Linked DNA regions of Homo sapiens. The protein of the gene in region 1 purifies or fractionates together with the protein of each later gene. This does not show direct contact. Each region holds a gene or a part of one and is shown in the gene's direction. Other genes may lie near its edges.

What was found.
Region 2: the proteins of GIMAP2 (region 1) and FBP1 purify together in Homo sapiens (affinity purification with mass spectrometry; one large-scale study listed by BioGRID and IntAct). This does not show direct contact.

What each region holds. Positions count from the first base shown.
Region 1 is NC_000007.14:150,691,143-150,694,189, forward strand, and holds the end of GIMAP2 (GTPase IMAP family member 2), read left to right. Parts: intron 1-1,172; coding exon 1,173-2,158; 3' UTR 2,159-2,499; downstream 2,500-3,047. UniProt on the Homo sapiens protein: The heterodimer formed by GIMAP2 and GIMAP7 has GTPase activity. In contrast, GIMAP2 has no GTPase activity by itself.
Region 2 is NC_000009.12:94,615,387-94,619,215, reverse strand, and holds part of FBP1 (fructose-1,6-bisphosphatase 1), read left to right. Parts: intron 1-1,355; coding exon 1,356-1,448; intron 1,449-3,829. UniProt on the Homo sapiens protein: Catalyzes the hydrolysis of fructose 1,6-bisphosphate to fructose 6-phosphate in the presence of divalent cations, acting as a rate-limiting enzyme in gluconeogenesis. Plays a role in regulating glucose sensing and insulin secretion of pancreatic beta-cells.

The sequences.
Region 1 (3,047 bases):
AAGGGGTTAACCCTCAAGAGCCAGAGTCACCCTTGCCTTGCAAGTTAAATCACTCCTCTCTCCACTACAAAGCTGCATCTTGGTTCTTCCATGAACCTGCCCTAGACAAGTCATTCTTATCACTGCCATGTGGACCAGCGAAATGGCACCATGGCTCCTATGCCTTCCCCTTTTATGTGTCTGAAACACATTTTTTCCCTAAAGCCTCAAGCTCCTTCATACCTCTGTCCCCATTCACTCCTCTCCCCAGAACCTTACCCACGTTGAAGGGAAATGGGGAAGGAGAGAGGAAAGTTTACCATATTCTGTGACTATTTTATACCAAAATTATGCCATGCTTTCTAAGCAAAATTATGATATCCTTTATAAGATATCAGTTGTTTCTTCACTAATAAAAATAATTTTACACTGCTCATTCTAATATTTTGCTGGTCCAGCCACTTCCCTGGTAGTCATGACCCCACTCTGCCCAGCCAAGGTCAAAGTAGCAACCTCTGGCCTTGAAACAGAGCCAGGTCACTTGGCCCACATTGAGATGGAACCCATGGCCTTGCCTACGCATCTCTGATCTCCAGAAAACTTTTCTTCTAGAGATCCAGGACTGAGTGATTCAGGCAACCATTACATGATGAGAAATGTCTCTAAATCCATCTCATCCCCAAGTATGTTTTCCTAGGCTCCAACATGGCAATACCCTGCAGTCCTACAGCAATCAAGTTAGCTTTCATTTCACGTGAAATAGATGTGCGAGTATCTTTTTACATAACGGGGAATACCTCCTTATCATTAAAAATATTCCACTACCGGCTGGGCCCGGTGGCTCACGCCAGTAATCCCAGCACTTTGGGAGGCCGAGGCGGGCGGATCACGATGTCAGGAGATCGATACCACGGTGAAACCCTGTCTCTACTAAAACTACCAAAAAAAAAAAAAATTAGCGGGATGCGGTGGCGGGCATCTGTAGTCCCAGCTACTGGGAGGCTGAGGCAGGAGAATGGCGTGAACCCGGGAGGTGGAGCTTGCAGTGACCCGAGATCACGCCATTGCACTCCAGCCTGGGCGACAGAGCGAGACTCCGTCTCAAAAAAAAAAGAAAAAGAAATGAAAGGAAAAAAAAATATTCCACTGCCGTGATCAGTGTAGCGATAACACAGTAAACTTGCTCCTCACAGGACCACATGCAAAGGGCCAATGTGCCAGCAGATCTGAGCTGAGAATCATCCTGGTGGGCAAAACAGGAACTGGCAAAAGTGCTGCAGGGAACAGCATCCTCAGGAAGCAAGCATTTGAATCGAAGCTGGGTTCCCAGACCTTGACTAAGACTTGCAGCAAAAGTCAGGGAAGCTGGGGAAATAGAGAGATTGTCATTATTGACACACCAGATATGTTTTCTTGGAAGGACCACTGTGAAGCTCTGTACAAAGAGGTGCAGAGGTGCTACTTGCTGTCTGCACCAGGACCCCATGTGCTGCTCCTGGTGACTCAGCTGGGCCGCTATACCTCACAGGACCAGCAGGCTGCACAGAGGGTGAAGGAGATCTTTGGAGAGGATGCCATGGGACACACAATTGTCCTCTTTACCCACAAGGAAGACCTCAATGGTGGCTCCCTGATGGATTACATGCACGACTCAGATAACAAAGCCCTAAGCAAGCTGGTGGCAGCATGTGGTGGGCGAATCTGTGCCTTTAATAACCGTGCTGAAGGGAGCAATCAGGATGACCAAGTGAAGGAACTAATGGACTGTATTGAGGATCTGTTGATGGAGAAAAATGGTGATCACTATACCAATGGGTTGTACAGCCTAATACAGAGGTCTAAATGTGGACCTGTGGGATCAGATGAAAGAGTAAAGGAATTCAAACAGAGCCTTATAAAGTACATGGAAACTCAAAGAAGTTACACAGCCTTGGCTGAAGCAAACTGCCTAAAAGGAGCCTTAATCAAAACACAACTGTGTGTTTTATTTTGTATTCAGTTGTTTCTCAGATTGATAATTCTGTGGCTTTGCATACTGCACAGCATGTGCAATTTGTTTTGTTGCTTACTCTTTAGTATGTGCAATTTATTCTGCAGTTTGCTGTTTATTATACCCAAAAAGTTAATGATATTTTTGAGAACAGTTATTAGACTAGAACGCAAGACTCCTAGGTTATAGTTACAGATCCCAGTTATTATTTACTCACTATCATTTAGTGGGTGAATCACAGTAATTTCCCTGTAAAATGTGGTACCTGAAGTCATATTTGAGATTCTATGAAATGTTTAAATCTGAACATCACTCCAATTATTAATGAACCAAATCATACGATAAGTTACTGTTTGCATTGAAATATAATATCAAAGCCTTTTGAAATCTGTAAACATAAAATTCCTCTCATTTTCAAATATCTAAAGCCAGTTTTATGTTCCTAAAATCTCATTTTCTTCTTTCTAGTACTACTATTTCTACTGAATATAATGAAAATGGCAATAAAATAATATTACATAAACTGTAAAGTTCCTTTGATCATATGTTGTTAATTCTCTTCTATAGTTTTCTCCTTAGAAAATGGTAAGTGGACATGACTCATGTTAGCCAGATTTTAGCCCTGACGTCCTACAGATTTATCACTGAAACATAAGTAAAGACAAATGTCAGAAAAGATAGCAAATTGGACTGGATATTCTGAAGCATCATCTTGCTAGATGCAAATAGAGGCTACATTTATTAAAAGAAACAGAATTTTTATAATTGATGAGTTCACCAGAAAAATAAAGAAAATTCCAAAGGTAGAGCAAACAATATTTTTTTTTAAATGAGGAGCACAAACTGGAGTTGAGGCCCATGAGGAATACATGAACAAGGAAGGCAGAGGTGACCGATAGACAAATGCCGGTACCAATCCTAAGATGAAGAAATCAATCTTGGGCTGTCAGTAAAATTGGAGAGCTGATTTGGAGTGTTCTGTATTAATTTAGGACCTTCCAGGAGACTAAAGTTATCCAAAATTAGTTGAATTATTGACAGCCAGTAGAAGCAAACACAAATCTTCTCTAGAGGAAAA
Region 2 (3,829 bases), on another chromosome or scaffold:
AAGTTCATGTTTTTCTCAGCTGGGCCTTTCAAGGTCTTTGGCAGCTTTAGGCGTATGGCTTAGATTTGTTGTTTAATATTCTCCATCACTCACGCCGGACTTCTCTTGTCTATCATGGGCCTTCATGATAGGCAGCTTCCTGTGTTCCAGTTTCCAGTTCCTCCTGCATTAGTGAGGGTGGTCTGTGAAGAGCAAGAGGGCAGGGAATCATGTTAATCTGCTACAGACATTTAAAAACGACATTGTAAAGTGGCTAATTTGGAGATGGAAAACTCCCAGTGATGTGCTGGTAAACTGGGTCTCAAAGCAAACAAACAAGTCTCTGATATGTCCACTTGCCTCTGTCAATGGTGTGAATACTCTCCCATCGTTGATTTTAAGCTACCAATGTGATATCACTGAAGGCAGAGTTGGGAAGAGATGTGCACCGTTAGCTCCTGAGAGCCGATACCAGCCAGCTCCTGCACACCACTGAAAATCCCACTCAAAACAGGAATCTGCGGTATTCCCACTACCACTGAAAGTTATCTACTTTGGGAATTACGCTAGAAATTTGTTTTGTTTAGTTTTGTTTTTAGAGACAGGGCCTCATTCTGTCACCCAGACTGGAGTGCACAGTCATGGCTCACTGCAGCCTCGAACTCCTGGCTCAAGTGATACCTCCTGTCTCAGCCTCCTGAGTAGCTGGGACTACAGATGTGCAGCATCATGCCCAGCTAATTGAATTTTTTTTTTTTTTTTTTTTTTTTTTTTTTTTTTTACAGAAGGAGTCTCTCTATGCTGCCCAGGCTGGTCTCAAACTCCTGGGCTCAAGCAATCCTCCTGTCTTAGCCTCCCAAAGTGCTAGGATTAGGCATGAGCCACCGTGCCCAGCCAGGATATTTTTGAAAACTCTATGCACCCCAACCTCAAGGGGCATCTGTAAGACCTCCATGAGAAGTTTCTTATAGATCTCAACCCTAGCAAAGTCTCTGCTTCACCTAAGGAATTATTTTTTTCCTTACAAATAAAGGAAAATGAGTGACTAACCTTCTTTTTCCTTTGGCTGCCAGGAAACTCAATGCAAAATTATGATTTGATTATATCAACAATATAGGAAATCATGACTTATCTGTATTCCATTACCTTCATCTGCACCTCTTAAGTGGTATTTTCTCTGTTTAATGGTCTTGTGTGTATGTGTGTGTATCTGTGCATTCTGTATGCCATCTCATGCCTTCCATGACAGTACAAATAAATAAGACCCACATTTTTTGAACTTTCTTCTAAATTCCCATTCTTAGCCCCTAATGTATACTCCTTTAGTGTATCTTGCTATAACATTTTAAGGTTGTATTTCTTTTTTCTGTGCTCAGGGTAAATATGTGGTCTGTTTTGATCCCCTTGATGGATCTTCCAACATCGATTGCCTTGTGTCCGTTGGAACCATTTTTGGCATCTATAGAAAGGTAAAACGTGATATCTTAAGCACTTGGTTTGGGGACAGAAGTTAAGATTGAGCATCCAGTCCTATTTCACTGTGGCAGAGCAGCCGGAGTGGAGATCATGAAACTGTGAGACTGAAGTAGATTTGTATCTCAAGTTCTGAGCTTTTCAGCACTAATTGCATGACGAAGACCCACTAGATTGTTGAAAGAGAATATAGGGTAAAATATGGGTGGGAAGAGAAGGATATTTCACTCTTTTTACTATGTCTTACTTTTTATGATAGAAAATGAGATTTAAAAAAGAGGCAGTAGAGGGTAAGTATAGTGATGATACGATGTGAACTCAGAGTTGAGAGTGTAAGACAACAATAGAGACTATGTCAAAACTGTCCTTTAAGTCCCCTAGTCAATGGTCTATAAGCTATGAGCCCCGGGCTGAGTCCAGCCTGTGGCCTAATGTGTACAGCCTGTGAACAAAGAATAACCATTTTTACATTTTTAAATAGTTGAAAAAAACTAAAGAACAAAGTTTCGTGATCCATTTTAAGTTTTACTCTTCACGAATGAAGCTTTAATTGGCATTTGGTCACATTCATTTTTTCACATACTGCCTTTGGCTGATTCTCTGCTGCACTGTCAAAGTTTTGTAGTTATGATAGAGACTGTATGGCCCATAAAACTGAAAAATTTACTATCTGTCTGTCTGTAGAAACAGTTTACTGAGCTTTGCTCTAAGTCGTAGAAAGCACACAGCATAGGATGAGAATCCAGCCCTGCTCGGGTCTCCTAACACCTGACTCGGGCAGTCACCCCTCCTCCAGAGCTGCTTTTTCTGAGAGAGAGAGAGAGAGAGAAAGAGAGAGAGAGAGAGGAGAGAGAGGAGAGGGAGGAGGAGGAGGAGAGGGAGGAGAGGGAGAGGGAGAGGTGCTCAATTATACGAATAAGTGAAAAATAGAATGAAAACCCATCCACCCATCAGGAAACATGATAAAATCCAAGGTACATCCTCTTAGCTTTAGCTCTTGTTTTGTTTTATTTTTTCAAAGTATATATTTTAGGCCGGATGCGGTGGCTCACGCCTGTAATCCCAGCACTTTGGGAGGCCGAGGTGGGTGGATCACAAGGTCAGGAGATTGAGACTGCCTTGGCTAACACTGTGAAACCCCGTCTCTACTAAAAATACAAAAAAACAGCCAGGCATGGTGGTGGGCGCCTGTAGTCCCGGGAGGCTGAGGCAGGAGAATCGCTTGAACCTGGGAGGTGGAGGTTGCAGTGAGCCGAGATCACACCACTGCACTCCAGCCTGGGCAACAGAACAAGACTCCGTCTCAAAAAAAAAAGTATATATATATATAGTTTTAACAGCTTTGGGGGGTACAAATAGTTTTTGGTGACATGAATGAATTGTATAGTGGTGAAGTCTGAGATTTTAGTTTATACCTCACGAGAATAGTATATATTGTATCCAATATGCAGTTTTTTTATCCCTCATCCCCTCCCATCACCCCCTTCTAAGTCTCCAAAGTCTACCATACCATTCTATATTCAGCTCTTGTTTATTTCAGAACTGAAACCTCACAGGCTGGAATCGACTGAAGAGGTTGGTTCAGCTGAACTCTGTTCTAGGACACAAAGGCATTAACTTAAGAACTGAGACCCTTGGCCTAGCGAGATGGCTCACGCCTGTAATCCCAGCACTTTGGGAGGCCGAGGTGGGCGGATCATGAGGTCAGGAGATTGAGACCATCCTGGCTAACACGGTGAAACCCCGTCTCTACTAAAAATTACAAAAAATTAACTGGGCATGGTGGCGGGCGCCTGTAGTCCCAGGTACTCAGGAGGCTGAGGCAGGAGAATGGCATGAACCTGGGAGGTGGAGGTTGCAGTGAGCCAAGATCGCGCTACTGGACTCCAGTCCGGGTGACAGAGCTAGACTCCGTCTCAAAAAAAAAAAAAAAGAACTGAGACCCAAATTTGCACTTTATCTCTAAAAGTGACTTATTGTCTAGTATTATACATAATTTCCTTTCAAATATGTGAAAAGTAGAGCCCCCATGGCACAGTTATCTTTGGTCATTGGAACGTATTTTGCTTTTTATCTTGGGTAAGAGGCAGATCCACATCACAATCAGTTTGAGGAATAGAAGATTCAAATTCTCATACTAGAAAGGCAAAAAGGCAACAATTTATCCATTTTCCAAGTCATGCCAAGGAACATACCATTTCTGTTGTAGACATGGAAGAATGCAATTTTCCTTGCAAAATATCAAATCCACAGAATAGCAGGAGAGGTTTGTAGCAAAATTCTTCCTTGCAGAGGAAGACATCTGGCTAATGTGTTAACCACAACTAAAGCAGTGTTGATGTTTACTAAGCCCATTCTCCATCTCAGTCCCCCCAAA